Linked DNA regions of Homo sapiens: region 2 is linked to region 1. Evidence: fine-mapped expression QTL. A gene starts in region 1. The other region holds a variant in brackets. All regions are shown on one strand. Distances are between the middles of the regions.

The links. PIP is the estimated chance that this variant, and not a neighbour inherited with it, causes the effect.
Region 2: its variant is fine-mapped to the expression of GZF1 in whole blood (INTERVAL, PIP 0.97).

The regions. Positions count from the first base shown.
Region 1 is chr20:23,352,824-23,369,140 of GRCh38, forward strand. It overlaps GZF1 (GDNF inducible zinc finger protein 1), which reads left to right and starts at 9,359. Exons shown (of 6, transcript NM_022482.5): 1 at 9,359-9,414; 2 at 11,540-12,924; 3 at 14,180-14,274; 4 at 15,939-16,106. The coding sequence starts at 11,561. LINC01431 (long intergenic non-protein coding RNA 1431) reads right to left here and starts at 5,304. Exons shown (of 3, transcript NR_109884.1): 1 at 5,132-5,304; 2 at 4,228-4,314; 3 at 3,771-4,146. It overlaps NXT1 (nuclear transport factor 2 like export factor 1), which reads left to right. Exons shown (of 2, transcript NM_013248.3): 2 at 1,158-1,948. The coding sequence starts at 1,219. The coding sequence ends at 1,641. RefSeq lists enhancers at 4,730-4,819, 5,010-5,399, 8,825-9,084, 10,899-10,958 and silencers at 5,450-5,639, 8,645-8,734, 9,155-9,644.
Region 2 is chr20:23,429,619-23,445,935 of GRCh38, forward strand. CSTL1 (cystatin like 1) reads left to right here and starts at 10,067. Exons shown (of 4, transcript NM_138283.1): 1 at 10,067-10,188; 2 at 10,526-10,868; 3 at 14,316-14,426; 4 at 15,153-15,312. The coding sequence starts at 10,650. The coding sequence ends at 15,260. RefSeq lists enhancers at 12,306-12,405, 12,808-13,387. The variant CT/C (reference allele first, on the strand shown) is at 7,490.

The DNA.
Region 1 (16,317 bases):
CAGGACTTATCTGGTGGATGTTAGTACCTGTGTAAGCTGGGTGTCCTCCCTTCTAATCCCCACTCACCCAAGAGGTTTGCTGCTTCTAGCTTATCATGGGGATTATGGCTGCCATTTTGATTCTGTCCTCATGTCATTTGTGTTTCTACCCTCTTAAGAAACCTGCCTTCTCTGCCTTCCCAGTTCCTCCTGAGTGAGCTCATGATAGACTTTCCTAGACTCAGCAGCTGACGAGCATTTCATTGGTTTGGTTGGCCTTTATTGGGCCAGTGACCACTCTTCCCTTCAACATGGTCCACTGTCTTTACCAAGGGGCTGTCATGTCTGTTGCAAGCATTCAGGAAAGAGTGGCCTTCCATACTCAAATGTACTCTATTTTATAAAATGTGATTTTAAAAATTCGTGGTCCAATCAGGCCTCCTTATCCTCTGGGAATTGATTCCAGCAGCCCCCCTAGCCCCACAACAGACCAAATCTGCTGATGCTCCAAGTCCTTGATATAAAATGGCGTTAAGGCCGGGCATGGTGGCTCATGCCTGTAATCCCAGCACTTTGGGGGGCCGAGGCAGGCAGATCACCTGAGGTCAGGAGTTTGAGACCAGACTGGCCAACATGGCGAAACCCTGTCTCTATTAAAAATACAAAAGTTAGCCAGGCGTGGTGGCGGGCATCTGTATTCCCAGCTACTTGGGAGGCTGAGGCAAGAAAATCGCTTGAAGCTGGGAGGCAGGTGTTGCAGTGAGCCGAGGTCGCGCCACTGCACTCCAGCCTGGGTGATAAAGTGAGACTGTCACAAAAACAAAATGGCATAGCACAGTCAGCCCAACGTATTTGCAGGTTTCGCCCTGAGGTTGGCTGAATCTGTGGATGCAAAACCCTCAGATATGGAGTGCTGACTATAACTAAATGTTTTTAAACTAAACACTTAAGGTATACTATCTCAGTTTGCCACAGTGGTAATCCCATCTTAACAGTGAGCAAACTGAGTCTTAGTAAAATTAGGCATTTTTAGGCATTGGGTACTATTTGAGCCTACAGTCATTGTTCTGCAGTCTGTAACTATTTTGCCAGTAGTAGAAAAGGAGGAATGTTCCATTGTCAGGGCAGAATGAACTTTGGCATTCACGTGGCTTCTCTTCAACCTTACTTCCCTGCAGCCCCTGGTTCCCCAAGGCAGAGGAAATACCCTGGTGGAGCCCTCCTTCCATAGAACCAGAGATGGCATCTGTGGATTTCAAGACCTATGTGGATCAGGCCTGCAGAGCTGCTGAGGAGTTTGTCAATGTCTACTACACCACCATGGATAAGCGGCGGCGTTTGCTGTCCCGCCTGTACATGGGCACAGCCACCCTGGTCTGGAATGGCAATGCTGTTTCAGGACAAGAATCCTTGAGTGAGTTTTTTGAAATGTTGCCTTCCAGCGAGTTCCAAATCAGCGTGGTAGACTGCCAGCCTGTTCATGATGAAGCCACACCAAGCCAGACCACGGTCCTTGTTGTCATCTGTGGATCAGTGAAGTTTGAGGGGAACAAACAACGGGACTTCAACCAGAACTTCATCCTGACCGCCCAGGCCTCACCCAGCAACACAGTGTGGAAGATCGCAAGTGACTGCTTCCGCTTCCAGGACTGGGCCAGCTAGTGGGGGTGGCAGAGGTCTCTTTGCTTCATTCAGCCCTAGCTCTGTAGAGAAATGCAAACCTCGACTCTCAAGGATGTGAGGAACACAAGTTCATTTCTGTTGTTGCGGAGACACTGCAGACTCCACTGTGCCGAGGTTGAACTCTTTTTTGTTGCTCAAGTTCTAGGAGTCCCTTTCCTGAATATATACTTGTTTGTCATAGTTTCCTTTTCAAAGTAGTAAACTTTTCTATTTTTCTACTTGCCCAGTAGAGACTCTGATTCTGGAAATTCTGACAAATAATTTAATAATACACATGTTGCTTCTTTCCCTGTCTGATGTGTTTGACCAGGTTGTGAGGGAGGAGGAGGGCTAAAGGCAGAAAGCATAATAGGAAGCACCCGCACAGGGGTGAGGATCAGGGCTTAGTACCTACCCCAGGCACCAGTGTGCACATAGTTGGCCCACCTGGAGCTGTGATTCACAGCCCCATGCACACTAGAATCCCTTGGGACACTGAAAATTACCTATGCCAAGGCCATACTCCAGACCCAACCATGCTTGAGTGTGTGTGTGTGTGTGTGTGTGTGTGTGTGTGTGTGTGTGTGTGTGTGGTGGTGGGTAGGGGGGTTGGTTTTGTTCCAGGCTGGAGTGCAGTGGCATAATCTTGGCTCACTGCAACCTCCATCTCCCGGGTTCTAACAATTCTCGTGCCTAAGCCTCCTGAGTAGCTGGGATTGCAGGCACATGCCACCACACCCGGCTAATTGTTTGCCTGAATCTTTGAGGATACGGCTGGGCATGGGCAGTTTCTAAAAGCACCCTAGGTGTCTTTTAGGATACATCACCTTAGGATATAGCAGAATCACCTAACAGATGGCTGGGCCCTACCTTAGCACCTTAGCTGAGAATTAAATGATGAGAACAGATGAAATACTAGAGTTAGCTAATTGCTTATAAATGAAGCCACTATATTAAACTCATTGATAAAGAGAAAGTGAATCAGCACTGATTCTGAGAGGAAGAAGCACTGAAACTAGGATGGAGGACATCAGAACCAGAAGCTGCTGTTACTGATCCTAAAGGCCAAACCCAATTGCATTTCTTCAATGTAAAGAATAGAAAACCCTATAGAAGTTGGACCAATAGATGATGTGCCTGCCATGCTGCAGCTTCCCCAGTTAAGTTGTCTTTGGTAAAAGTGTGCTAGGTTTGGGATAGGGTAGTCAAGATACTGCAATGGGAAATTTTGAGAAGGGTAAGAATCCTGATAAGCACAGTGACACAGGTAGCCGTTTCCTCTTGACACCCCTTCCCTTCTCTATTATCTGAAGCCCAGTGTTTTGAGAGATAAGGGACCCACCTTAAATACTTGACTTTCTCATTCAATTTGTAGCTAGGTCTGACATGTGATTAAGTTCTGGCCAATGAAGTAGGACTGAACTTGGGGGAATTTTCCTTCAACAGACCCTTCTTTCTTTCCCACTCTATCCTGCTGCCTGGAAAGGTTATGCTGACCTGACCACGGGCTCTGGCTCAGTCTTGGCCAAGAGAACAGCTCAGCCATACCCTAGACGTAGGATAGTGCTGAGCTAAAAGGAGCCTAGGTCCCATGTGGAAACACCAAAATAGCCCCAGCTCACTCAACCAAAGACTTCTTTTTAAATGAGAAATCCCATCTTAAGCCATTATCAATTTGGGGTGTGTGACACTGACACACAGCAGTAATCCTAAGTGAGGAAAAGGATTTGAATGGGGCAGACTGTATTCACTACAGGGCCCAGAAGACGCGGGGACGGCCCCAACTACTGCCCTTCAGGTCCGGGCCAGACCCGCAATGGGCAGGATGGGTAGGGTACAGGGCGTGCGTCCCCACCTACACTAGCCTGGTTGCAGGCGGCCTCCAAGGGCACAGCGGGAAGCTCCGCCCTTGCCATGCCCCCGCCACCGGGGAAGGCAAGACAAATGTGCGTGGCACCCTCCTCCTTCGGTTCTGGGACACATCTCCACCAAGCGGCCGTTCGGCAGGTAGGGCCAGATGGTCCCGGCTCGTCCCTGCGGGTGGGGTTTCCCACCGGCGGAAAGCGCAAGCCCCTCCCGTTCTGTCCAGCGCGCTGCCCGCTGCCTTAATTATAAGGCAGATGAAGGTGAAAAGTTTACTGGTTTTTATTTTTGCAACTTTTTGTAAATTTTAAATTATTCTAAAAAGTTTAAGAAATGAATTGTGCTGAGGAGTATAATCAGCACGCAGTGCGAGTTCTTATAGTGGCCACGTCCACAAACCCTGTGTTGTGGAAGAACAGAAGGCGTTCTGCTTTCTGTGTTTCACCGTCTCTCCCTCGCTTTAACTTCCAGGTCCCGGAGTAGTGGTGACAGCAAGGTCTGTTGGTTTCTTTGGTTTAGGTTTGATGAAAGGCCACTCCAGTGGGGTAGGAGGTGGGCAGGGAGAACAGGGGCTAGGGTGGGAGGGGCAGGAGTTGGGTCCTGGGGGTGGAGGAGATGACGGGGAGAGTGGCTTGGAGAAATCTGCAAGAAGAGACATTGGAAGGCCGGGGGAGGTGAAATGGACACTGGGTGAAGCTGAGGAGTCCTAGTGAACCATGTTACCTCTGATCCAGATATTCCCAGAACAACAAGAAATCAAGCTTCTGAATGTGGTCTGTTGCAAGCTTGGAAGGTGCACACCTGTTGCTGCTAATTTGGACAATTTGGGGGAAGAGCAGAGATTTAGATGTTGCTTTGGTCGACCTTAAACACCAGCCCTGTCTCCCCTACCACTTTGCCAAATTAGGGCCCCGTCTCTCTAAAGAGCAAACAGAAAACTGCAGAAAGTTGCTTTGTCCTGTAGACAAGAGGCTGGGACTAGGTAAGAGGAGGGAGCCAGGATGCAAAACTTAAGACCAGCCTGGCCAACAAGGCGAAACCCCGTTTCTACTAAAAATAGAAAAATTAGCTGGGCGTGGTGGCAGGCGCCTGTAATCCCAGCTACTCAGGAAGCTGAGGCAGGACAATCGCTTGAACCCAGGAGGCGGAGGTTGTAGTCAGCCAAGATCGCGCCACTGCATTCCAGTCTGGGCGACAGAGCGAGACTCCGTAACAAAAAACAAACAAACAAACAAAAAATCTTAAACATCACCAACGAGCCTTGTGAGAAATGGTTTAACGTTGTGATACCTTGCCCAATTTTAAGGCAGGTAAAGGTGTGTGTTAAAACTCAACTCTTGAACTGAACCCCAGCTGCCCTTTAGGGCATGCTTAATTTGATGTGGACTGTAACCTCTTTTGCAGCATTGTAGAGATTTGGAATCTGCACATTAGGAAGAGACCCCACGAGGCGGTGGCGTTCTTTCTCGTTCGGAGCTCACACCCCTCCTGGGGAGCCCTCTCCCAACCCGGGCTCCCGGTAAGCGCGGTCGCCGCTCCTCTGAGGGCTGCTCTTCCCTCGCTTCTGAGCCGAGGCCCCCGCGACACGAACGCCACGCCCGAAGCGCTCTTGCCAGGACGTACTGACCGAGGGTAGGCTGCCCAGCCGGGTGGTAACGTTGAGGAAAGGACAGCAGCTTCGCAAAGGAGCTGGGTAAAACCACGCCCAGACCCCGCTGGCCACCAGCCCGAGACCAAGACGCAGGCGGTGGCGCCGGTTTCTCACTCAACCGCAGGTTCCAGCATCCCCGATACGGCCGACGTCATTACCCTGCGACCGCTCAGGACACTTCTGAGGACTCTTTTGACAGCTAGTAATCGCGCGGTGGCGCGACCACGTGACTCCGGCGCCCTAGCCCCGCCCTCCGTCTCCAAGGAGCCCTGGAAGGAGCTATACCAGCGGCTCCAGAAGGCGGGGAGAGGCGGGGCCGGACTCCGGGACAGCCAATGGGCGAGGAGTGCCGCCCAGCCTGACCCACCGGCCGCTCCCTCACGAGCCTGTGGGCGTGCGCCGGCTGTGCAGGTGAGGGGCAGCGAGGGCGCCTAGTGGGCAGGGCGCCGGCGTTGCGCGTGCGTCAGTGTTCTTCCTTGTGCAGTTTAGAATTTGATACATTTCTTTCCAGTCTATTTCTATAGATTTGTTTTCAAATCACATCAGACCCTATGTAAAATAGTGTACCGTCTTTACTCATTATAACATGGTGAGCATTTCCCCAAGCTATTACACATATTTTTAAACATTGTTTTAATGACCGGCATAATAATCCAGTGCTTGGATATATCAAATTCTTCGGCCATCTCCTTATAGGTGAGATTGTTTCCAAAGTTTCACTAATGTAAGTGCACTGCAGTGAACGCCCTTACGTAACAATTGTTCACTCCCGTGTACTTTTCTCGTGCAGAGTTCTACAGCATGAAACACTATATTTAACTTTGTCAGGTTGATGTTTATCAGTGGTTTATTATTGTTTTTATAGTATTCCATTGTCAGTGAAGTATGCCATTCACACTGTCAAGTGAATTGTCTATTTGTATTATTTAAAAAAAAGATCACAAACATAGAAAGGAGAGCTTTATTTCTTTAAACGGTGATAACCTGCAAGGTGGCCCTTCTGACAGGCTGGGAAGCATAGCTTCTGGCAGAAGCTCAAAAGGCAGGCAGCTGGAGGGAAGGGGGCCTAAGACAGGAATTTAAGCTGAAGGACTTAGCCAAGTACACATATGAACAGGCCACAGGAAGAGCTATGAATATTCATGAAACGGGTCCTGACCCATGCTTACTGGACAAACGTGCATGTTACAGGTGACCTATGTTTACTTTGGGGTGGACTCTTAGCATTTACAGGTATTCATGTATTACATTTAGACCCTATAAGTTGAAAGATCTTTTCAGGACACCGATGCACTTGTGTGCAGCCTCTGTAAACCGCCAGAATCAGCCCCTGTTCGGTTGTTTCCCATCAGGAAAAAGTTACTGCAGTCAGTCTCTGGTCCAATCAAAGCAGTAATTATTTGTGGAAGTGGTGGGGCTGGGGCAGGGGGCGTGTCAGTCAGCATGTGGAGGTGGATGAAAAGCACATTGTTTGAATATTGCTTATCTAGAGGCCAGTGCTTGTTTGGCTGCCAGAGAATAAAAACCTTGTGGCAGTTAAGGCATAGTTTCTTCTTGAAGTGTAGAGGTGCATGACAACCCTTGCCAGGCATGGCCCTTCATTCTTTATCATTTAGTATTGCCACAAAGAGTCTGTGAGTCTTATGACCTCTATTTTTAAAGCTATTAAGACACTCAACTAAAGCAATCCTTTCAGTATTGAATGGATAAGCTAGCATTATGTTATGCTAGCTAACATAATCGGAGACGGAGTCTCATTCTATTGCCCAGGCTGGAGTGCAATGGCATGATCGAAGCTCACTGCAACCTCCATCTCCTGGGTTCAAGTGATTCTCCTGCCTCAGCCTCCTGAGCATCTGGGATTACAAGTGCCTGTCACCACTCCCGGCTAATTTGGTTTTGTTTTTTTGAGACAGAGTTTTCCTCTGTTGCCCAGGCTGGAATGCAGTGGTGCAATCTCCGCTCACTGCAACCTCTGCCTCCCATGTTCAAGCGATTCTCCTGCCTCAGTCTCCTGAATAGCTGGGATTAAAGGCATGTACCACCTCGCCCAGCTAATTTTTGTATTATTAGCAGGGAAAGGGTTTCACCATGTTGTCCAGGCTGGTCTTGAACTCCTGACCTCAGGTGATCCGCCCACTTCAGCCTCCCAAAGTGCTAGAATTACAGGTGTGAGCCACCGCACCTGGCCTAATTTTTGTATTTTAGCAGAGACGGGGTTTCACCATGTTGGCCAGGCTGGTCTTCAACTCCTGACCTCAAGTGATCGGCCCGCCTCGGCCTCCCAAAGTGCTGGGATTACAGGCGTGAGCCACCGTGCCTGACCACCTTTTTGTAATGCAAAACAAAATCATAAAACACGATTCTGGGCCTGCTGGAGCCATGGGTGAAAACTGCGTTCATTCCAATTTCTTCAAATCATGGAATGCAAATATAGAGAGTCGGCCTAAGAAAGATTTCTGTCACTCATTCATTCTTCAAATATTTATTGAGCACCTACTATGTGTGGGAAGCTGGCTCCTGTTCAGGAAATATAATTAAAAGTACAATCTCCCAACCCTCTTCAGAAAGGTAGTGGAGAAAGAAAACACTTTGTAATTGAATAAGCATTAAACTAGAATGTGATACCCATCACAGGCAATCCATTAAGAGACTGCAAAGACAGAACGAAATCTCACTCTTTTGTGCAGCCAAGCAATCTATTACACACATTTTCAAGATAAACAATAACTAGCTCTCAAGGGAACTTGGCAGCATTTTTCATCACACACAGTTCATCTAACCTGATATTTGGGATGATCCTCTGTGTTAGCCAATTGGCTTTATCTAGAGGAAAAAGAAACTTGTATCTTTATGATATGAGATAATTTTGTAAGTTGGAGCAAAGGGCCCACTGAAGTTAGGCTCCTACTCCCCCATTAAAACTGGGAGACAGGGGCATTAACTCCCTTGATACTTAAAGAGATGGCTCCTAGGTCCTAGAAAAAGACATATCTAGGTTATAAAGCGCACAAAAAGGCCTAACTAGTCTTCAAAAGGATTTATATATTTCAAAGAGAGGAAAAAGTACTTACACTAATTACCAATTTTCTAAAAGTAAATGTTCGAAGAAAAAGGGAGGGAAATCTCATATTTTCAACAGGAAGTAGTAAACCTTATTTTAAATTTGTATTTGTCCTGACAGTCCCCAAACATTACAAACTCAACGTGTCGGTAAGACAAGGCTGAGTTAACTGCTGGCCACAGTAAGGGACAGCATGACCTGGCAAAGCTTTACCAATGGCTGGGAGCAAAAGGCAAGGTCAGTTTATTGAGAACTGGAAGTCTGACTCAAGGAAGGTGTTTCAAAGCGGGCTTTAGTTAGTATTGAGCAAGAATTGGTGGAAACAGCAAGATTTCGAGGAGTCAGCGAATCTTAGGGAATCAATTGTGCTTTCCCCGAAGAGTGGATGGGTCTCTGGGGAAGTTCTGTAGTGAACAAAGCTTTCGCCCGAATGGGAACTCCTGGAAATAAAGCCCTGCAGTAAAGACGGCAGGGTGCGGTCCCGGCTCCTGGCGCGCCGAGCCCCCCAGCAGGGCGGGGGCACCGCGGAAGAAGCGCCCCAGAGGAGAGCGCCGCGCCGAGCCCCGCCTGGCGCCAGTTCTCCAGCGCCCGTGGAGGCATCTGCGCCCCTAGTAGCCAAGGTGAGTACCAGCTCCAAGCCCGGCTTTCCGCGAGGTCCCTCGCGTGGCCACCGTGCCCTAAGGGTGCGCTCGGCCTCGGGGACGTGAGCAGCTCTTAGTGGGAAGCCAGCTGCAGGCCCTGACCGCAGGCTGCTGGGGCCCGGAAGCGCTGGCGCCTTGCGGCCAGAAGCCCGGAATGGACGCGAAAGTGACCACGCGAATCTGACGCTCACGTGACTTTTCGCGACTGGCCCCGCCCCCCTGTGGCGTGCCGCAGCGCAGACGTCGCTGTCTCCTGCGCAGGCGCAGGCCTTGGCTCGCGGCGGGTGACGCAATGCGGCGGGTGACGCAATCCGGCGTCGCCAGTCAGTCGCGCGGCCAGATCAGGTAACTGCCCGAACCGCTCCGCCGCCCGACGTGTGGCTCAGCCCCTTCCTCAGCCCCGCCAGGGGCGGGGCCGGCCGCGGGAGGGGAGGGGCCTGCAGCGACCAATCGGCGGTGCCCGCGCAGGGTGCTACGCCACGCCCAGCCGGGCCGGCCGTTCCTACCGGCCTGGTCCAGCGGACAGCGGCTGCAGCGGGGGCGCCGGCTGGGAGGTGAGTGCGCGGCCCGTAGGCCTGGCTCCGGCCCCTCGCCGCCCGCCGCCGCCTCTTTGTCCGCGCGCCCCGGCTGCTCTGTGGACCTGCGCGTCTCGGGGATGCGGGAGCGGGGGCAGGGGGCGGCCCGAGGGCCTGATCCACGCGGCCCCGGATGCCCGCGTCGGGAGGCGGCGCGTCGGGCCGAGGAGGGGCTTCTCTGTGGCTGCAGTAGTTTGTTCTCTGGGTCGTCTTTGGAGTGGCCGAGCGGCGTCCGGGCGCTGGGGCGGCCAAGTGGCGCGGGAAGGGTGGGAGGTGCCGTGAGGGCGGCGAGGACAGCGGCGGATTTAAGCCCCACTGGAAACCCCGGCCCTTGTGGCCGTGGACTGGGCTGCGGGTAGCAGCGTCTCCTGGAAGGGCTCTGGCCCCGTGAGCCTCGGGGATTCAGGGGCCGCCGACGTTGGTGCAGATGCCGGGCGCACTGGGAGGCGGCCGGAATGCCAATGAGATTCGGCGGATACGCAGCTGTCACCGGCCGCAGACTGCCCTGTCGCCACCTCCAGTGCCTGCACTCCAGTAGCCAAGCAACATAGGAAATCGCGCTCAGAACCCACTTTGTTGATTGAGAAATCAGGTCTCCTCGAGGGCCCTGTTGGCAGAGGTCTGGGGAAGTCAGGGCATCAGGCTGAGAGAGCCCTCTGCAGTCTTGTTTCCCCAGGCTGGGGCTGGGACCACTGAAACCCCAGTGGCTCTATAAGAGCCCCACTCTTATAGATCCCTTCCTTAGGCTTTGTCAGTGTTCTCACAGTTTTACTGGGGCGTCTCCTTCAGGCGACATTGATCAAGCCTCATAGGTACCTGTTTACAGCGGAACTCCCAGAGGGCAGTCTTTTCCATGTTTGAGGGACTGCTAGTTGTGGGGAGCGGTCTCATTGATGAGACTGGAGAAGGGGAGAGGGGTGGGACTAGTTTATCAGGGAAGATGATGACAACTTTTTTTCTAGACACGTTGAATCCGAGGTGACATCTGTGGTCTGGCCGAAGGAGGCTAGAAGGAAGGCATGTGCTTTGGATGGATGGAAACAGGAATCAAAGAGGAAGGTAGATTCAGGAGCTGAAGGGCAGGGAGAAAACACATTCAGGGAGTTTGTGGCAAAGCAGCAGAAATGACGATGGGGTGACGGTATCTGGAGGCCTTAGGTGGGGTTGGTGAAATTTGCATGCCCGCTGCAGTGGAAAGATTTAGGGGCTAAAGATAGCCCTTTGCCTTTGGCAAGGCTGAGGGGAAGAGTGTGTTGAGTAGTCTGAGTTGAATCCGGGCACCAGGCCCTGGCTCATGTCCCAACCAGCCATTGACTGTTACCTTGATAGGTCCTCATCTATGAAATGGGGATCACTGTAGCACCTTGGCCTATGTGTGGGAAACCAATAAACTAGCCAACAAGTTTCAGGCTCATGGAACCCTGGTAACAGCCGGTCAGCCTTCTTCAGAGGAGGAAATGGGTTCAGAGAAGTTGCTTGCTCAAAGTAGCACAGCTTGTAAAAGCTGTGGAACTTAACATTATTTCAGTAGAGTAACAATAATTCAAATTCTGAGGAGTTTAGGATGTTGGGAATGGGCGATGAATTGTGAACTACTTTTCCAAGAAGTTTTCCTCATGGAAAGTAGTTATTTAGTTGGTTCTTTTCAAAGGCAGAAATGATTCCCTGAGGTTTTGGATTTGCTCCCAGATGGTGGTGGCTATGTGTTTTAATTATCTGGTTTCCTGATCAGAGAACTAGACATTATTGTTGCCATGAATTCTTTTACAGTTTTGGGGACTATGTAAGCAAATTAGACAGTGACCTTGGTGAGCAAATTACTGTGTTAATGTATTTCACTAATCACAACTTCCATCATTTGTTTATCACTGGAGGAAACCTTAGAATACACTATTTTTCATGCCAATTTATTACCTTAGGAAAATGCATGAGGAACCTCACTTTAGAAAACTGCTAAGAAGTAAAATGTCATTCGAATCTTTACCTGAGTAAAGCTAGGTTGTTAATGAGTCTATATCCTCTCAAGTACTGAAGGAATCCTCATAAATTTTAGTCCTTTTGCATCAGTGGTTGCTCATGCATAATTCTTGTTTCTTTTTCAAAGCTGTTTTTGGAAGGAAGAAAGATGGAAAGCGGTGCAGTTCTGCTGGAATCCAAATCCTCCCCATTTAACCTACTGCATGAGATGCATGAGCTTCGCCTCCTGGGTCACCTGTGTGACGTGACAGTCAGCGTGGAGTATCAGGGTGTCCGCAAAGACTTCATGGCCCACAAGGCAGTGCTGGCTGCCACCAGCAAGTTTTTTAAGGAAGTGTTCCTTAATGAGAAGAGTGTGGATGGTACTAGGACTAATGTCTACTTAAATGAAGTGCAGGTTGCTGACTTTGCTTCATTTCTTGAGTTTGTCTACACTGCAAAGGTACAGGTGGAAGAAGATCGGGTGCAGCGAATGCTGGAAGTGGCTGAAAAGCTGAAATGTTTGGATTTATCAGAAACTTGTTTTCAATTAAAGAAACAGATGTTAGAGTCAGTACTTTTGGAGTTGCAAAATTTCTCAGAGTCTCAGGAGGTGGAGGTGAGCAGTGGCTCCCAAGTTAGTGCTGCTCCTGCCCCCAGGGCAAGTGTGGCCACCGATGGCCCTCACCCCAGTGGTCTCACGGATTCCTTGGACTACCCAGGAGAGAGAGCCAGCAATGGCATGTCTTCAGATTTGCCACCGAAGAAGTCCAAGGACAAACTAGACAAGAAGAAAGAGGTAGTTAAACCTCCCTACCCTAAAATCAGGAGAGCTAGTGGAAGGCTGGCTGGGAGGAAGGTCTTTGTGGAGATCCCTAAAAAGAAATATACGAGAAGACTCCGAGAGCAGCAGAAAACTGCTGAGGGTGATGTGGGGGACTACAGGTGTCCCCAGGACCAAAGCCCGGACAGGGTGGGCACGGAGATGGAGCAGGTTTCCAAAAATGAGGGTTGCCAGGCAGGTGCTGAGTTGGAGGAATTGTCAAAGAAAGCAGGGCCGGAGGAGGAAGAGGAGGAGGAGGAGGAGGACGAAGAAGGGGAGAAGAAGAAGAGCAACTTTAAGTGCAGCATTTGCGAGAAGGCGTTTCTGTATGAGAAGAGCTTCCTGAAGCACAGCAAGCACCGCCACGGCGTGGCCACCGAGGTGGTGTACCGCTGCGACACCTGCGGCCAGACCTTCGCCAACCGCTGCAACCTGAAGAGCCACCAGCGCCACGTGCACAGCAGCGAGCGCCATTTCCCATGCGAGCTGTGCGGGAAGAAGTTCAAGCGCAAGAAGGACGTGAAGCGGCACGTGCTGCAGGTGCATGAGGGCGGCGGCGAGCGGCACCGCTGCGGCCAGTGCGGCAAGGGCCTGAGTTCCAAGACAGCGCTGCGGCTGCACGAGCGCACACACACGGGAGACCGGCCCTACGGCTGCACCGAGTGCGGCGCCAGGTTCTCGCAGCCGTCCGCGCTCAAGACGCACATGAGGTACGCGGGGAGCCGTCCGGAGGGGTCCCTGCGCACTGGAAGGGTGTGTCAAGCACTGAGGTCGTCCTGGGATTTGATGTCTCACTGCTTAATTTCTCCGCTCCAAACCTGGGGGCTTATTTCGAGACAGCGTTTAGTTCTCTGTCAAGGTACAGGGGCTGCGAGTGATGGCTCTGCTCCCTTGTTCTGAGACCCCTGGGGCGCCCCTGCTGGCCGGGACGTCCCTCTGGTGGGACCGCGACAGCGGCCGCGGGCTCGCCCCACCGTGCTGGAGGAAGAGTTGGGCCTCGTTACCTTTATTTCTCCTTTCCTGACTCTTCGTTTAGATCTTGGGGTTCTGTGACCATCCGGGTCCCACAGTCTCAGTAGAGACCTCAGTGAGATGCCATTTCAGGCTTTAGGACTCGTCTCTGGTCTTTTGGTTCTCAGGCTTGGAAGGAGTGCCATCTAGGCAGTCTGCACTCCAGAATCAGGACAGACAGTGCTTTCTGTTTCTTAATATGTTTCTGAGCTGCAGGTGTGTGGTGATGTTTTTAAATAAGTTTTCTTATAGTTCTTAGTATATTTATTCTTGAAATCCCAACAAGCAGTTGTTTTCTCTTCTCTTCTAGATCTGCCCTCAAACCTAGGTCAGTCTTGGGTTAGCAGCATGGTGTTCATTTTTTACTCTATATAATAAGTTAAAAATACTTGGTTTAGGAAGTGCTCAGTAAATTATGTTTGATTGCTACTTCATACTAGTTGTGACATTAAAATGCTTATGCATTTTAAAAATGCCACCTTCGGCAATTTGAGAACAGTTCTCCTTTCTCTACTGGTGATGTCATATTAGGAAATGAGAGTAACATTTTTGATCATGTGACACTTAATCAGCAGTAGTTCCTAAGGTGTTTGTGGCTGATTATTCTGTATGAGACAGCTTTACAAATATCAGATTGTGGTCTTTAGTGTTTAAAAAAATCTGCAAAGGCCTGGTCTCTACCTGCACATGCCTTATAGCATCAGCAGTAGGGCTTGTGATCAGGTGTAGATGAACATTCCAGTCAGTGATTTATGGAAAATGTGTGGATCCATTGACCTTGTGCAGAAACTCAGTTTATTTTGGGATGGAGATTATGGGCTCTTGACCTGTCACTACAGTCATTCTCATTAGGTCTCTTGGAGTAAACGATTTTTGCAGGATAGAGTGGAAATTGTATTGCAAAGTGAGCTTTGAAATACATCCTAAGTTATCATCTGAATGTTGTACTTTCAGAATTCATACAGGGGAAAAACCTTTTGTCTGTGATGAATGTGGTGCAAGATTCACTCAGAACCACATGCTGATTTATCATAAAAGGTGTCACACAGGTAAATACTCATGCTGTTGTGATTGAATGTCTTTCCTAGATCTAGAAGGAAATGCAATTGATTAATTTTGAAGTTGGCATCTACCAAGGTGGTGCAGGTTAAAGCCATGATATAGCTTTTCCATCTAGTAAGTGAGCAAAATGAATAAACATACACCCATTGCCTTGTTGCTAGTGTGCACATGGCTGTGGCTTTTATACCACCAGGCCATAGGATCTGGCATGCAGGTCTTAGGTATCAAGAGATATAAAATAGTTCTTTTGTAACCGAAATTTTTTTTTCTAAGACTCTGTCCTAAAGAAATTGTCCAACATATGGGAAGAGCTGTATGCTATTATCCCCCTTCTTGCTATTTTTAACTAAGAATGGGAAACAGCCTGATTGTCCAACTACAAGGAAGTGCTCTAGTCAACTCTGGTAAATCTATACCCTGGCTTATGACCCGGCTATTCAGAGTAAGGGCTCTGAATGACATGAAAAAGTCTGTGCTTGGATGTTCAACTTTAAAATGCACAATTAAGCATACAGTTAACCTCAATTGTATTGAAAACCTGCACATAAAAGACCAGAAGAAAATAAGTTGTTATATGATACATTAAGGTAGTAGGATTATCTCATTTCTGTTTTCCAAAGTCTTTATGATTTATTAATTATGTGACAGATAAAACTTAAGTTGGCTTTATTCTGCTTCAGCACAGTAACCCTGAGGTTTAGAATCTTGTGGAAGATACAGAAGCATACAGCACTGAAGTGTTCCAATTCTTCTCAGTTTCTTCTTTGCTTGCATTTTTTATTCTTACCTGTAAACACTGGCTTACAAGCCTCAAGTTCAAATGCATGTGAGACAGAGATGACATGTCTCTGACTCATTAGACACCACATCTGTGTGATTAGACACCAGTTCTGCTCATTCTGAAGTCATAATTCATGTCATTGAATGAAAATCTCATTTAATGTCATGAAATTAGCATTTAATGACATGCATTATGACTACAGAATGAGTAGAATTGTTTAAAGAAAGCTTGGGATTGGGGACAAGGTCAGGTTATAATGAAGGATTAAGTTAGAATTGGTCCTTTGATAATATTAACATGGTAAGATTTTATTAAAGTCACTATTTTTATTTTGATGTCTGTGAAATCGGGCACAGCTAATAATTTGGTAAGTCTGATTTGTGGGATTAAACTACAAAAAGTGAGATATTTAAAACTCTTGTCCTACAATTCAATCAAGTTGATTGGAGTTGCTACTCTAGAATAGTGATATATATCCATTGTCAACTTCCCCTTTATTCTGATAAAGATCCATAGAAGTGTTCCTTTGAAAATAATCCAGCAGTTCCTCCAAACAGAAGTTGTGAAATTATTTTCTTGTTTGGAATGAGTAAATTTCTAAAATGTGAGCCAGCTGAACAAACAATACCTCTTTGATTCTAGTCAAATGGAATTTTTCTTGCAATTTCCAAGGATATTTTACACCAACTTTCAGTAAGTAGCAAGCATCTTACATGAATATATATTTTATGATAGTTTTTACTGGAAAATGTAACATGCTGCCTACCAAGGCACTTTTGAGTTCACGTGGGTTTTAACAGTGGAGACCTACTGTTCCATGTGTTTTTAATGCCTGTATTGTTTATGACTTTATTTCATTTTCTCATGTAGGTGAAAGACCTTTTATGTGTGAAACATGTGGCAAGAGTTTTGCTTCTAAGGAGTACTTAAAACACCACAATAGAATCCATACTGGATCCAAACCCTTTAAATGTGAAGTATGTTTCAGGACTTTTGCCCAGCGGAATTCACTGTACCAGCATATTAAAGTCCACACAGGTATGGTTGGAATGTCCCAGGGAAGGGAGTTTAGTTTGGCCAAAAAAAAAATTCTAAAGCTTGTAGATTTACCAGTAAATTACTTGGAACTAAGCTTTTGAAGAAAACTGGCCAAACTTTGTATGTCATAATAGCATTTCTTTAGAGATTGTTTCTAACTCTGAGAAACTGAAAAGTGGGAGCACTTATGTGTGTAAACGGGAGAAGACTA
Region 2 (16,317 bases), 77 kb after region 1:
TTTTATGAGGCCAGCATCATTCTGATACCAAAGCCGGGCAGAGACACAACCAAAAAAGAGAATTTTAGACCAATATCCTTGATGAACATTGATGCAAAAATCCTCAATAAAATACTGGCAAACTGAATCCAGCAGCACATCAAAAAGCTTATCCACCATGATCAAGTGGGCTTCATCCCTGGGATGCAAGGCTGGTTCAATATACGCAAATCAATAAATGTAATCCAGCATATAAACAGAGCCAAAGACAAAAACCACATGATTATCTCAATAGATGCAGAAAAAGCCTTTGACAAAATTCAACAACCCTTCATGCTAAAAACTCTCAATAAATTAGGTATTGATGGGACGTATTTCAAAATAATAAGAGCTATCTATGACAAACCCACAGCCAATATCATACTGAATGGGCAAAAACTGGAAGCATTCCTTTTGAAAACTGGCACAAGACAGGGATGCCCTCTCTCACCGCTCCTATTCAACATAGTGTTGGAAGTTCTGGCCAGGGCAATCAGGCAGGAGAAGGAAATAAAGGGTATTCAATTAGGAAAAGAGGAAGTCAAATTGTCCCTGTTTGCAGACGACATGATTGTTTATCTAGAAAACCCCATCGTCTCAGCCCAAAATCTCCTTAAGCTGATAAGCAACTTCAGCAAAGTCTCAGGATACAAAATCAATGTACAAAAATCACAAGCATTCTTATACACCAACAACAGACAAACAGAGAGCCAAATCATGAGTGAACTCCCATTCACAATTGCTTCAAAGAGAATAAAATACCTAGGAATCCAACTTACAAGGGATGTGAAGGACCTCTTCAAGGAGAACTACAAACCACTGCTCAAGGAAATAAAAGAGGACACAAACAAATGGAAGAACATTCCATGCTCATGGGTAGGAAGAATCAATATCGTGAAAATGGCCATACTGCCCAAGGTAATTTACAGATTCAATGCCATCCCCATCAAGCTACCAATGACTTTCTTCACAGAATTGGAAAAAACTACTTTAAAGTTCATATGGAACCAAAAAAGAGCCCGCATCGCCAAGTCAATCCTAAGCCAAAAGAACAAAGCTGGAGGCATCACACTACCTGACTTCAAACTATACTACAAGGCTACAGTAACCAAAACAGCATGGTACTGGTACCAAAACAGAGATATAGATCAATGGAACAGAACAGAGCCCTCAGAAATAATGCCGCATATCTACAACTATCTGATCTTTGACAAACCTGAGAAAAACAAGCAATGGGGAAAGGATTCCCTATTTAATAAATGGTGCTGGGAAAACTGGCTAGCCATATGTAGAAAGCTGAAACTGGATCCCTTCCTTACACCTTATACAAAAATCAATTCAAGATGGATTAAAGATTTAAACGTTAGACCTAAAACCATAAAAACCCTAGAAGAAAACCTAGGCATTACCATTCAGGACATAGGCGTGGGCAAGGACTTCATGTCCAAAACACCAAAAGCAATGGCAACAAAAGCCAAAATTGACAAATGGGATCTAATTAAACTAAAGAGCTTCTGCACAGCAAAAGAAACTACCATCAGAGTGAACAGGCAACCTACAACATGGGAGAAAATTTTTGCAACCTACTCATCTGACAAAGGGCTAATATCCAGAATCTACAATGAACTCAAACAAATTTACAAGAAAAAAACAAACAACCCCATCAAAAAGTGGGCGAAGGACATGAACAGACACTTCTCAAAAGAAGACATTTATGCAGCCAAAAAACACATGAAGAAATGCTCATCATCACTGGCCATCAGAGAAATGCAAATCAAAACCACTATGAGATATCATCTCACACCAGTTAGAATGGCAATCATTAAAAAGTCAGGAAACAACAGGTGCTGGAGAGGATGTGGAGAAATAGGAACACTTTTACACTGTTGGTGGGACTGTAAACTAGTTCAACCATTGTGGAAGTCAGTGTGGCGATTCCTCAGGGATCTAGAACTAGAAATACCATTTGACCCAGCCATCCCATTATTGGGTATATACCCAAAGGACTATAAATCATGCTGCTATAAAGACACATGCACACGTATGTTTATTGCGGCACTATTCACAATAGCAAAGACTTGGAACCAACCCAAATGTCCAACAATGATAGACTGGATTAAGAAAATGTGGCACATATACACCATGGAATACTATGCAGCCATAAAAAATGATGAGTTCATATCCTTTGTAGGGACATGGATGAAATTGGAAACCATCATTCTCAGTAAACTATCGCAAGAACAAAAAACCAAACACCGCATATTCTCACTCATAGGTGGGAATTGAACAATGAGATCACATGGACACAGGAAGGGGAATATCACACTCTGGGGACTGTGGTGGGGTCGGGGGAGGGGGGAGGGATAGCATTGGGAGATATACCTAATGCTAGATGACACATTAGTGGGTGCAGCGCACCAGCATGGCACATGTATACATATGTAACTAACCTGCACAATGTGCACATGTACCCTAAAACTTAGAGTATAATAAAAAAAAAAAAAAAAAATGAGAAAAACCGAAATCATGCACCAGTCGATAAGATGCAATAAAGAATACAGCATCAAAAAAAAAAAATAAAAAAAAATAAAATGCACAATCAAAGCTCACTGCAGCCTAAATCTCCCAGGCGTAAGTGGTCCTCCTACCTCAGCCTCCTGAGTAGCTGGGACTACAGGCATGTACCACCAAACCCAGTTGTTTTTTAATTTTTATTTTTAGTAGAGATGAGGTCTTGCTCTCTTGCCCAGGCTGGTCTCAAACTCCTGAGCTCAAGCAGTCTTTCCATCTCAGACTCCCAAAGTGCTGGGATTACAGGCATGAGCCACTGTGCCCGACCAAATATTCTTCTTTTTATTAGTTGATGTAAAAGTCTAAAAACAAGTTTTGAAATTAACTTGATGCCTTTATTTATGGCAAATGGGCATAAGATCATTTTGACAATTTTTATTTATATTATATATTCTAGGACCTTTCTTATCTATGCTTAATGTAAGTTAAATGGTTGTGAGCCACAGACACAACTGCTTAAAGGGAAAAATGGTTTATTTCTCACATACTCTTTGAATTCCTTTCACATGATTATTTAATATTACATTAGGAGAAATTTTAGGGAAAAAAAGATGCTCATAATTCTACCTGCTCAATGAAACATTTTTAATTTTTTATACATATATAGTGCTATCTCATTTTTATCCATCAAACTTACACATGTGTAAGTATTATTAGGAGTATGCTTGTAGTTTGTATTTTTTGTTTGTTTATGAAACATATATTTTCTCTGTTGCTATAAGTGTTTGTAATTGGTTGTTAATGGCCAATAGTTGAATAAATCAGATTTCACAAAACCTTTTTCCACGGTGGCATATTTGGTTTGCATCACATTTGGCTCTTATGGAAACATCTAAGACTGTCTTGGAAAGTGAAATAATTTCCCCATCACTAGATTACACCGTCCCAGGCTTATTTAGGGTGCGGTACTAGCATTTCTTCATTATCAGGTGGGAAGAACTGGGTCTTCGCAAATCTACTCTTAACATGGTAGTAACTGTCTTTAAAAACACAGTCAACCCTTATTATTCATGGATTTCATATTTGCAAACTCACCTACTTGCTAAAATTAAGTTGCATTCCTAAAATCAACACTTGTGGCACTTTTGCCGTCATTCACAGACGCTCAGAGTGGGCAAAAATGTGGGTGGCCTGACACATATGTTCCAAGCTGAGGTCAAATACAGCAGCAATCTGCCTTCTTGTTCCAACTGTTGTTGTTTTTGTTTGTTTGTTTGTTTTCGAGATGGTGTCTCACTCTGTCTACCAGGCTGGAGTGCAGTGGCTCGATCTCAGCTCACTGCAACCTACACCTCCTGGGTTCAAGCAATTCTCCTGCCTCAGCCTCCCAGGTATTTGAGACTACAGGCACGTGCCACCATACCCAGCTAAGTTTTGTATTTTTACTAGAGATGGGGTTTCCCCATGTTGATCAGGCTGGTCTCGAACTCCTGACCTCAGGTAATCCACCTGCCTTGGCCTTGAGCCACCACTCCCAGCCTTGTTCTAGCTCTTATATTGTTAATGTGTCCTTCTTCACAGCCTGTTTAGTGCCACGTTTCACAATTTTGTATTGGTTTTTTTTTTAGAGGTGGGGTCTTGCTGTGTTGCCCAGGCTGATCTCGAACTCCTGAGCTCAAGTGTCTTCAGCCTTGGCCTCCCAAAGTGTTGGCATTACAGGTATGAGCTATCACATGTGGTTTGAGTTTTGTGCTTTTTTTGGTTGGTGATTTTGCTGATTAAAATGGCCCCAGGCATAGTGCTGCAGTGCTATCTAGTTCCTAGGCACAAGAAGACTGTGAGGTGCCTTATGGAGAAAATGTGTCTTAAATAAGCTTCATTCAGGCATTTACAGGACTGTTGGTGGTGAGCTTGATGACAATGAGTCAACAATATATATTTAAAAGACACCTCTAACTAGAGACACACATAAAATAAGGTTAAATATTGATCAATTGACAGAAAGTGTTGTAACCAGAGACTCAAGGAAACCAAACCTTGTGTTTTTCCTGGGCACAATGGTTTAGCATTTACTACTTCCATGTTTGCAGAGATTTTATAGAAGATACCTTCTGCAAATGATGAAAATCAGCTGCACATTGGGACAGTATCTGGATAAAGAAATGAAATGAAGTCAGATCATAGAATATCCCTTTCCCAATCCCTAAAAGAAATGGGCAAAAAGATAAAAACTAGCAGCTTTTCAAGAGAACTAAGACAGAGGGAAATCATCTGGTGCTGGCTAATTTCTATTTGCTCCCTAGCCCCACTGGCTAACCTTCTGTTATGGTTAATTTTACGTGTCAACTTGACTGGGCCACGGAATGCCCACTATCTGTTAAATGTTATTTCTGGATGGGTCTGTGAGGATGTTTCTGGAAAAGGTCAGCATTTGAATCAGTGGACTGAGTAAAGCAAATGGCCCCTCCAATGTGAGTGACACCATTCAATCCAATCCACTGAGTGCCCGAGTGGCAGATGGTTGAATTAGCTCTGCCTGGCTGTTTGGACTGTGACATCAATCTTCTCCTGCCCTCAGCGCTCCTGGTTATTAAGCCTTCAGACTCAGGTTGGAATCCACACCCGTGGCTCTCCAGCTCTCAGGCCTTCCAACTATACCATTGGCTTTCCTTGGTTTCCAGCTTGCAAACAGCAGATGGTGGACTTCGAGGCCTCCATAATTGTACAAGCCAATCCTTTATAACAAATCTCTTCATATCTCTGTGTTTCTCTGGAGAACCCTGACTAAGGCACTTTCTCCATGCTGCTCTCTGCTTCACAACACAGGCTGCTATGGACTCCATCCGTGGGGCTCTTGTGCCCTATAACTTCTGCTTGTATTTGACAACAAGATGCCTAGGAATGAGGTAGAGGACAGAGGAGACTGACATCATGGTGTTTGTCCCCTGCTCTCTCCACAAAGTGGCCAGCTGGCACTCCAATTCTTTCTAGATGTTTGCCTCATCTTTCAGGCTTAGGCTAGGTGGCATGGCTGCTGCAGACACTTGCCCTGTGTCCCAGGGTTTCTGTGTCCCTGCACCATTGCACAGCGCCCCGTATAGAAACTGCCCTGAACTCTCCTGTTGCAAGTGTGCCTGTGCTGACTGTGGAGACCCAGACTGACATGCTCCCCAACCCGTTGGATGAGGCCAGTATAACCTTGAAACCCAAACCAGGAAAGCACAATATGAGAAAAAACAATCACAGCCCAGTTTAACTCATGAAGATAGATACAAAAATTCTGAAGAAAACATTAGTAAACATACCACGCACAAAAATCTAGATGGATTATGGACGTAAATGGGAAATGCTAAACTTTAAGAATTTCAGAAAAAATATTTAAAAGTAGCTTTATGACCTTGATTTCCTAAATAAGACATAAAAAATGCAAACCACAAGAAAGAAAAATCAATACATTCTTTCCATTAAGATTAAGAATATTTTTTCATCAACATGCCATAAATAAAATGAAAAGACAACCACAACCCAGAGGATGACATTTGCAAGAAGGATAAATAAATCCTACAAATCAATTGAAGACAACCAAACAGAAAAATGGGCAAAAGATTTGAACTTGAAGACTTAATTACAGATTTCAACAGACTCTTGGCCCTCTTCCGCTTTTGCTGCTCATTGCTTCAGTGGGAAAAGCATCTGCTTACAGAAAACCAGACAGATCGCAGGAGAAGGTGGAAGCAGGAGTGTCGCAGCCTGCAGAATCCACCTGCTTTTTCTTTGCTTTCAAAATGGAACCTGATGACTATTTAAGAGCTGGTAAACAGATATTGTGTTGTGGAAAACGTCTGCAGAAAGGAGACCAAAGGCTGGATGAGGACGATGACCTCCCCACAAGCCCCTCCACTCTGGGCATCCTTGGCCTCTTGTGACACGCTCTCACTTTTTAAGCCTTGTGATTTCTCATGTTTCTGTGTCTGGAAAGAGAAAATGTACCCTGGGACCTTTGGAGCGATGCCAGCTTGGAGCCATCTGTAGCACCGCCTTGTTTGCTGACTTTCTGTGCGCCTGCTGCTGGCCTGCTCCCCAGAATCAGAAGGCATTTCCAGCCAAGATCAGCCATGTTCTTCTGCTGCTGCCCTGGGGGCGAGGGCTCAGGGCTGCAGTGGGAGCTGCTGCTGGCAGCATGGACTGTGCTCCCCTACCCCTGCCCTGCAGCCACAGTTGGGAGATTCCTCAAGCAGGCACAGACTGCTGACCATTCCTTCCTGGGCCATGTTTGGAGGGTGCCCAGCAGCAGGTGGGTCGCAAATAGATTTGCTTTCTGCCTGGGTTATCTCCAGGTCAGCAGCCAGCCTAGAACAGGATTATTTAGGGGACAAAGAAGAGCTTGTCAAATAGTGCTACATGCAAAAAAAAAAAAAAAAAAAAAAAATAGAGTGGAGAGAAGAAACCAACCGAGATCAGCCGTGTTGTTTACAGAGGATTATTTGTTTCCCCAGAATGATCAGAAAATTTCAGATAGCAGATGTCGGCTGATGAAGAGAGTGTCACAGTGTGACCCTTTCCCAGCACCAATGCCATATCTACTGGTGAAGGAGTGATGAAGAACTACAGCCAGGAAGCTCCCTGTCTGCAGGTTCCTCAGCCCACATAAGCAGAGCCTGCTGGGATAAAACACATCATCATGTTCTTGTTTATTTCCTGCTTCTCCTAGGAGCTGGACTGATAAAGAAATCCTGAGCTTGGTCGTCAACAGACAGAACCAGGAAGTTGTGCAGCTCATAGGGGGCCTCTGTGGGACACACACCATCTCGCCCACACAGCACCCAGCCACGGGTTGATCCAACAGGAATCCCACACTTGCCATCATGCCTGGTCCAGCAGTGGCCTGTTACCAGGTTCAGCTTATGAGACAGGAGGCCCAGTTTGCTGGACTCCTGGGAAACATACTTTTTCTTTCTTT[CT/C]TTTTTTTTTTTTTTTTCAGACGGGGTCTTACTCTGCTGGGCAGGCTGGAGTGCAGTGGCACAATCACAGCTCACTGCATTCTAGACCTCCAGGGCTCAAGCGATCCTTTCATCTCAGCCTCCAGAGTTGCTGAGACTACAGGCATGTGCTCCCCGGCTAATTTTTGTGTTTTTTAGTAGAGATGGGGTTTCACCATGTTGGCCAGGCAGGTCTTGAACTCCTGGCCTCATGTGATCTGCCCACCTTGGCCTCCCCAAAGTGTTGGGATTACAGGTGTGAGCCACGGCGCCTGGCCAAATTGCACATATTTAAAGTGTACAATTTGATGAAATTTGTCATACGTATGCACCTGTGGAATTATCACTACAATTCATACAACAGACATATCTATCACCTGAAGTTTTCTCATGCCCTTCTGCAATCCTTCTCTCCTATGCTCCTTATTCCACAGACATGAGCAGACCTCATATTTCCTGTTATTCCATGGTCTAACCAGAGCTCATATTTTTCCCTTCTTTTATTGGCAAGAACAGGGCTCCTATTTGTTATAGCCAGCACTCCTAATTTACTCTTGTTCCACGGAAATACTCAGGCCCCTATTTTTCCATTGTTTCATGGCAGTAACCAGACAACAACTAAGCCCTCTATTTCCCTTTGTTCTGTCGCCCAGGCTGGAGTGCTTGGTGTGATCTCAGCTCACTGCAGCCTCGACCTCTCTTGGGCTCAGGTGATCCTCCCACCTCAGCCTCCAGAGTAGCTGGGACTACAGATGTGGGCCACCATGTCTGGCTAATTTTTGTATTTTCTGTGGAAACGGGGTTTCACCATGTTGCCCAGGCTGGTCTGGAACTCCTGGGCTGAAGCAATCCTCCTAGCCTCAGCCTCCCAGGTGTCAGCCACTATGCTCTGCCCCTATTCCATGCTGTAACCAAGCTCCCTGTCTCCCTTTATACATGTACCTTACCAGAATCATATTTTTTTCCTGATTCCATGTCCACAGAGTCAGAAATCAGCATTTTGCTGACACAAGCTAAGGAACGCCAGTGTGACCTGTTAGGCGCCTCACATCTCTTTCTGTGGCATAGTCAGGGTCTATGTTTTCCTTTTCTTCAATTAAAATTGCCAGTGACTCATTTTCCTCTTTATGGACACAACCAACTCCCATATTTCTTAAGCAGATTTATTGTTTATGCTTTGAGCCCCACATCCATGGGGTTTCTAATATGGCCCACCCAATGTTATTTTTCCTCTCTATGGGCCTCAGCCTGATGGGGGTATCCCAGGTGTCTGGGGCATGCTGAGACGGCACAGGTCTGTGTGGCTTCCCGGATTACTCGGAATCCTTCATTATCTATTCTACAGCAAGTGGCCCTCGGCAGCTCAGGCTCAGGGAATTTCAAATGTATCACCTCCACCGGCTGGACAAGTCCTCTCAAGACAGGCTCTGGGGCCAAGGGAGGATGTTGTGACTGGTGCTAGCAACATTGTCATGATGGAAGGTGGCCTGGCTTCCGGGACATGACAGGCCATGGGTGAAGTGTGGGTTCAGAGTCACAGAAGAATCACGAAGAAGACATTCTTATGCACCTGACACCTGACTTGGGAGCAGGTTCTTTGCCTACATCCAGTTAGTCTCTACCACAATTCAAGTGGAGTCTTTCTCCCCATTCTCATATTACAGGTGAAGAAACCCAGCTTAGGGAGATGAGGTAACTCTCCCAGAGTCCCCAGCGAAGGACTTGAGCCAGGACAGTTGGATCCTAAGTCTCCTGCTTCCCCTCCCTCAGCACGCTACTCCTCACAGAACAACGCTTTATTTAGTTTTGGACATTTTAACCTTTATTTTGGAATAATTTCAGACTTACACAAAGGCTGCAAAAATAGCATAAAGCATTCTCGTATACCCTTCATTCCACTTCCCCAAATGTTAACATATTATACAATCACAGTACAACGGTGAAAACTAGAATATCAACATTCACACAATACTATTAACTAATCTGCAGATTTTATTCACATTTCATCAACTATTCCACTAATGTTTTTTTCTGGTAGGATTCCATTTAAGGTGTTTTTTTTTGTTTGTTTTTTGTTTTTTTTCTGAGACACAGTCTCGCTCTGTCACCTAGGCTGGAGTGCAGCGGCACCCTCCCGGCTCACTTCAGCCTCCACCTCCTGGGTTCAAGTGATTCTCCTGCCTCAGCCTCCCAAGTAACTGGGACTACAGGTACACACCACCACACCCAGCTAATTTTGTATTTTTAGTAGAGATGGGGTTTCACCATGTTGGCCAGGCTGGTCTCGAACTCCTGATCTCTGGTGATTCACCCACCTCAGCCTCCCAAAGTGCTGGGATTACAGGCGTGAGCCACCGCGCCCAGCCAGCAAATGTTTTTAAAATAGGGCATTCATGGGCTTTTGGGGGTAAGTGACACCTAATCTTCAGGGGTCTGCGGATAATTTCTAAATGGGGCTCACAGTTTATTCCTCCCTCATAGGGAGGCTGCAATTACCTCACAAAGCTCCACTAGGGTCACAACAAGATAGCAAAAGCCAGTGCAGGGCCTGCAGGTATAGGGGGATCCTGCAAGCAGAAATCTGTGGTGGGCGGGCGGCAGGTGAGCAAGGAGAACGTGTCTGTAAAGGAAGCACAGGGAACAGGTGGTGGCTTTGTAAGACAGTTGGAACCCAAGGAAGGTAAGAATAATGTACCACTCCTTGCTCCATATGACTGCTTCCTTATATCTCAGTTCAGATATTACCTTCTCCGTAAGGCCGCCTCCCTTCCTGTAAGTGATGCTTCTCTATCTACAACCCCAGCTCTTATTGCAGAGCACTGTAGGGGCTGTTCTGGGGCTTTTCTTCCCTGAGACATGTGAAGGCAGGGAGAGGGGCTTGCACGCCTTAGCAGGTGTTTAAAAATTTTGCTTGCCTGGATCACCAAAGAACTGAATGGGTGGTGTAAATGGGTAGAAAATGAACTGGCTGGAAACTGAGTGACAAGGTTCAGGTCTGAATCTCTGTTTAAATGCAGGCAGGCCATCCCCCAGGAAAGCCTATGTTGGTGAGGGTTATGATGGGAGAATGAGTGAACTGCAGCCTGGCACCACCACACCCTGGAAGGTGCAGTTGGGAAGAAAGTTTCTGAGGCTGTAGACATGGGGATCGGATGCTGGAGAAACCCCCTGCTGCTGCTGATTGCCCTGGTCCTGTCAGCCAAGCTGGGTCACTTCCAAAGGTGGGAGGGCTTCCAGCAGAAGCTCATGAGCAAGAAGAACATGAATTCAACACTCAACTTCTTCATTCAATCCTACAACAATGCCAGCAACGACACCTACTTATATCGAGTCCAGAGGCTAATTCGAAGTCAGATGCAGGTTTGTACCTTGCTCTCCCAAGACATCAGCAGGCCCTGTTCTTGCCAGTTCAGACATGTGAGGATTCTGGGGTAGCTCCCAAGAGAACCAAGTGGTGGTCCTCCGTGAGGTCCCAAGGGGGAAGCATCTTCACTTGTAGCAGGTACATTGTAGAGTTGTTCAGATCCCAGAATGTCCTTAGCCATGCTTCCAAAATGCTTTCCTAAGGACTGGCATGAACTCTAACTCCAATACACTTAGAGGCAAAAGTGTTCACTGAGGATTAAACTCTTTTTTTTTTTTTTTTTGAGATGGAGTTTCGCTCTTGTTGCCCACGCTGGAGTGCAATGGCATGATCTTGGCTCACTGCAACCTCCTCCTCCCAGGTTCAAGTGATTCTCCTGCCTCAGCCTCCCAAGTAGCTGAGATTACAGGTACGTACCACCACACCTGGCTAAATTTTTTGTATTTTTAGTAGAAACCGGTTTTCACCATGTTAGCCAAGCTGGTCTCGAACTCCTGACCTCAGGTGATCTGCCCACCTCGGCCTCCCAAAGTGCCGGAGTTACAGGCGTGAGATACCACGCCCGGCCAGCTCTTTTTCCTTGGGAAGAAATGCCTTTCATTCTGATATTTGACCCTGCCGGAGTGACAGCAAGGATAATTTTGCTCCCTTTAAAGTTCTCATTTGGCAAAATACAAATATTCTCTGTAGGCCTGTAGCCCCCAATATTTTTTCAATGTGTAGGGTTGTAAAATTCAAAACTGGGTGTTCTGTGTTATACAAACTTCAAATTATACAGAGGGTTTATTCTGGAAGTGGAGAGGATGTGAGAGATAGGGTTCAGCCAGATCACCTCACCTTCTGTTTTACATATAAAATTTCTCTGAAATATATCAATTGAAGGATAATAGAAGAAAGAAAAGTTGTTAGGGAACCCCTTTTATTGGTACAACATTTCCTCAAGGTCAGATAATAAACTATACAGTCCCCTTGGTGTCCATGAGGAATTGGTTCCAGGACCCCTCAGGATGCCCACATCCATGGATTCTGAAGTCTTTTATGTAAAATGGAATAGTGTTTCCACATAACCTATGCACATCTTCCCACATATGGTAAATCATTTCTAGATTAATTATAATAAGTGGTACAGTGTAAATGCTATGTAGATAATTATTATACTGTACTGTTTAGGGAATAATTACAAGAAAAAATGTTCAGTATACAGGCAACCATACATTTTTTTTTCCTGAATATTTTGATGCACGGTTGTTTGCATCCACAGATATGGAGCTCGTAAGTACAGAGGGCTGACTGTAGAAGTTGGGGCAGCAACAATGCTACGTCCTAGTTCAATTAGCTAGATTTGGGAAAACACAACTGGCTATGGGAAAGCTCTCTCGCCAGAGAGTAAGGCAGCTGGAACAGAGAGAACCGGCAAGGCGGGAGGGCAGCGTGGGGAGGACCAGTCAGCATAGGTCAAATCCTCATCCCAATGCAGACTGTCCCACAGGCTGGCTCAGTGAGGCACTTCTACCACAAGATGGCGATGTTGCCCATTTGGTTCTTGGTTCTTCCACAATTGGTTAAGACCCCAAGGAGGCTTGCCTTGTGAAATCAATCCATCACCATTAAGTTAGCTGTTAAGGAATAATGATGAGCATTTGATGTCATTCACATTGATAAGCAGACAGAGCAGGCGTGCCTCCTGGTAGCTGGGTGATCTTGGCATGGGCCTCTGGGCACCCCCACACCCATATGACCATTGTGTCTGTCCTTACACCTCACAGAGGGGACAAGAGCAGGCGTGGAGGGCTGCCAGGTGCCTCTGGGGGCTTCACGCCCAGCTCCTCCCAACTGAGGCTCCTGGTCAAGTGACATCCAGACTCTCCAGACCTCAGTTTCTTCACCTGCAAAGTGCCTCAGAATAGGAGGGAAGCACTTAGCACAGTGCCAACATCTGGTAGCACTTATAAAAAATCTTTGCTGTTATTATGACTACTCCTGTCATTATCGAACAAATAAGTCTAATAACGAATAACACTTTGCACACTGGAATGTCAGTTACAGTGATGACGGGTGGTTTAGTTTTTTCTTACATTCTGAGCATGCTGAAAGTCAGTGTGACCGTGCCTGGGGCAGCCCTGCAAATGCCCATGCATGGATGGCCCCCACATGTTTGGGTGCGGGGAGGCTGGTACTGCCCTCAGGTCTAGGCTCCCTGCTGCCCTGTCCCAGTGTTTGCTAAGGGTGTCTTCCTCCCAGGAGCAGTGTGGGCACTCTCTGCCTCAGTCACCACCCCAGAGATGACCAAGCCCTCTCACTGGGCTTGACCAGTGACAGGGCAAGGCAACAGGGAGCTTCCCAGAGCTTCTCCTGCACCGGTGAAGATCCACTAATCCACATATCTACTCAGGAATCCAGCTCAGAACCCGACAGGGAACCGTAACCCCCAAGCTCTCTGTTAGTCTCCCTTCTGGGCGTAGGGCCTCCCTGCCCACAAGGGCTTTTCCAGGCTCCAACCCCTGCAGGCTTCATGGCCTCACACTTGATCACAAGTGAAAGAGCCATGGGGAAATCCCTGGCATGCGTTCTCCATGGCTCGTGTACCCACCATGCCTCCTTCCTTCATTTCTGTACACGCTAGGAGGAAACTGGCATTATTCTCCTCATTTCCTAGATGAGGAAACTGAGATTCAGTAAAATTTACAGAGTCTGCAGGGGGTAAAGCCAGATTTTGTGTTCTGTCACTCTCCTAACACTGAATCTGCTTCAAAGTAACACTGCAGACACTTTGCTAAAAGATGTAATAACTTATAATTATGAAAATATTTAAAATTTATTTTATGCATTCAGGGAAATGCAAGCTTCCATTTAGCCCACATAACAACTCCAGAAGCAGGCACAATTGTGGTTTGTAGTTTGTAAGTGAAAAAGCTGAGGATGCTAAGTAACTTGCTCAAGGTCACAGTCACTAAATGGAAAATGCATGCCCCAAATCAATTCGATTCCAAAACTGTTTTTAACTGTATTGCTAAGCTGCCTTCCACTAGGTTGGTCAGGAAGGATAGTAGAGACAGAGGAAATGGCAGAAGGGACTGGGGGGGTGGGGACAAGATGCTGGCTCTGTTGCATTTTGAAGGCCACATCTGCCAGCCTGGGAGTGGCCTGTGGTGGCCAGGCAACCCAGCTTGATGTTGCCTCTTCTGTCCTGAGGATGGAACAGAGGCAGGTGAGAAGCTTTCTGTGGCTGCTGCAGCAAAACCAACCTATGACCAGGGGCTTTGGCTGCCATTGCCCTCCCTCCAGCCAGAAGTAAGGAGAAGGGAGCCATGCTTTTGGTGGGTAAGCTCCGCGAACAAGAACTGTGGCCCTGGGAGCTTTACTCTCAGTCCTAGCTTCTCCAGGAGAGGGTCAGCCACTGGATGCTTGGAGTCCACACTAACAGCACAACTGATTCTCGGCAGCTGACGACGGGAGTGGAGTATATAGTCACTGTGAAGATTGGCTGGACCAAATGCAAGAGGAATGACACGAGCAATTCTTCCTGCCCCCTGCAAAGCAAGAAGCTGAGAAAGGTGTGTAGTGGAAGTCATCCCAAAGGGACTTGTGAAGTGAATATTTTAAAAAGCAACAGCTAGAAGTTGGCAGTTTTGCCACTTGTGTGGATTGGGGCCAGCTGGGGCCCAGCCCTGGGGCTGTCTGGCACCTCCTGAGGCACCTGGGTGAAGGAGGGAGGCTTTATATTTGGGCTGGTACAGCCCTGCACCCAGGCCTCTGGTTGCCTGGACCCTTCTCCAACCTGGCCTGCTCCCCAGACCCTCTGCGTGAAAGCAGTGGTTCCCTTTCCTTGGGGTCCTTCTTCTGTCTTCTTTCTCCCTCTCCAGGTCTCTAAGGTTGTCCAATTTCCTCCTTGTTCCCTTCTATTTTTCCTGGTCCATGAGTGGCACCCCTTGAAAGCTGGCAGATACAAGGGGCTCCCCCATGCCTGGGGAGGTGCAGGAGGAGGTAACGATGCTATTGCTCCTTGCTGGCCTGCCTGGCCCACATGACAGGGTCCGGCCAGGCCATAGACTCCAGGTTCACCTGCTGTGGGTCCCAAGTGGCTGGGTAGGGGGAAGACAGGGTGACATTCCTGTTCCAGACTGGCACTCCTTTCTGTTTCTACCCTTGACTGTGGGCAGCTCCCCTCTCTGCCCATGGGGTTCATGAGCAGCCACAGGGAGAGACCTGGGGAACAGGTGCCTGTTGCTTGCCTTTGAAAAATACTTCCCCCAAAGTCTGTTTTCTTTCTTCTTCTACAGAGTTTAATTTGCGAGTCTTTGATATACACCATGCCCTGGATAAACTATTTCCAGCTCTGGAACAATTCCTGTCTGGAGGCCGAGCATGTGGGCAGAAACCTCAGATGAGGGCTCATATGATTGAGTTGTGCACTGGCTGTTATTAAACTGTAAAGGATCATGTCTCCCTCATTGGGGTCTTATTACACATGCACACACACACATGCACACACAGAGTGTACACGTACACACACTTGCACATACTTACCTTCACAACCCACACACACAATGCTCATACTCACGACACCCTCACACTCTCACCACTCACATACATGCACATTCACTTTAACAGCCTCACACACTCATCCACCCGCCCACCCACTCACTCCTACATGTCAAGCACATGCACACTCACTCGCACACACATTCAGTGGTCTTCAGGGGTTGGTGCAATCTTTTCTTTCTTTTCCTTTCTTTCTTTCTTTTTTTTTTTTTTTTTTGAGACACAGTCTTGCTCTGTTGCCCAGGCTGGAGAGAAGTGGCGCAATCACTGAAGCCTCCGCTAAAGTGGAGCTCACTGAAGCCTTGACTTCCCCGGGCTCAAGTGATTCTTTCACCTTAGCCTCCCAAGTAGCTGAGATTACAGGTGCACACCGCTTTGTCCAGCTAATTTTTTAAAACACTTTTTTTGTGGAGACAATATCTCCCTTTCTTGCCTAGGCTGGTCATGGACTCCTGGGCTCAAGTAATCCTCCTGCCTCAGTCTCCCAAAGTGTTGGGATTATAGGCGTGAGCTACCGCACCCACCCAGCTGATGCAATTAGAACAGAATGTTCATAATCATTGGGGAAACCTCATCATTCTTTCTACGCCACCCCACATCTCTATGGCTTTTCTGAATTTAGCATGTCCCTGAGCTCTGACCCTAGTGTGGGGAGCCCTATTTCTTCCCAGCACACACACAACACTGTGACTCACACACATTTTTGTGAGTGTGTCTGAGATTCCCAATACCAAATTCACATTGAGTGACTCACTAGAGGACTCACAGGACTTAGCCTAGAGTCATTCTCATGGCTGTGATATGACAGCAATGGGACACAGGGCAAAACCAGCAAAGGCAAAAGGTGCATGGCGCTAGGTCAGGAGAAAACCAGCCAGGAGCTTCCAGAGTTCTCTCTCGGTG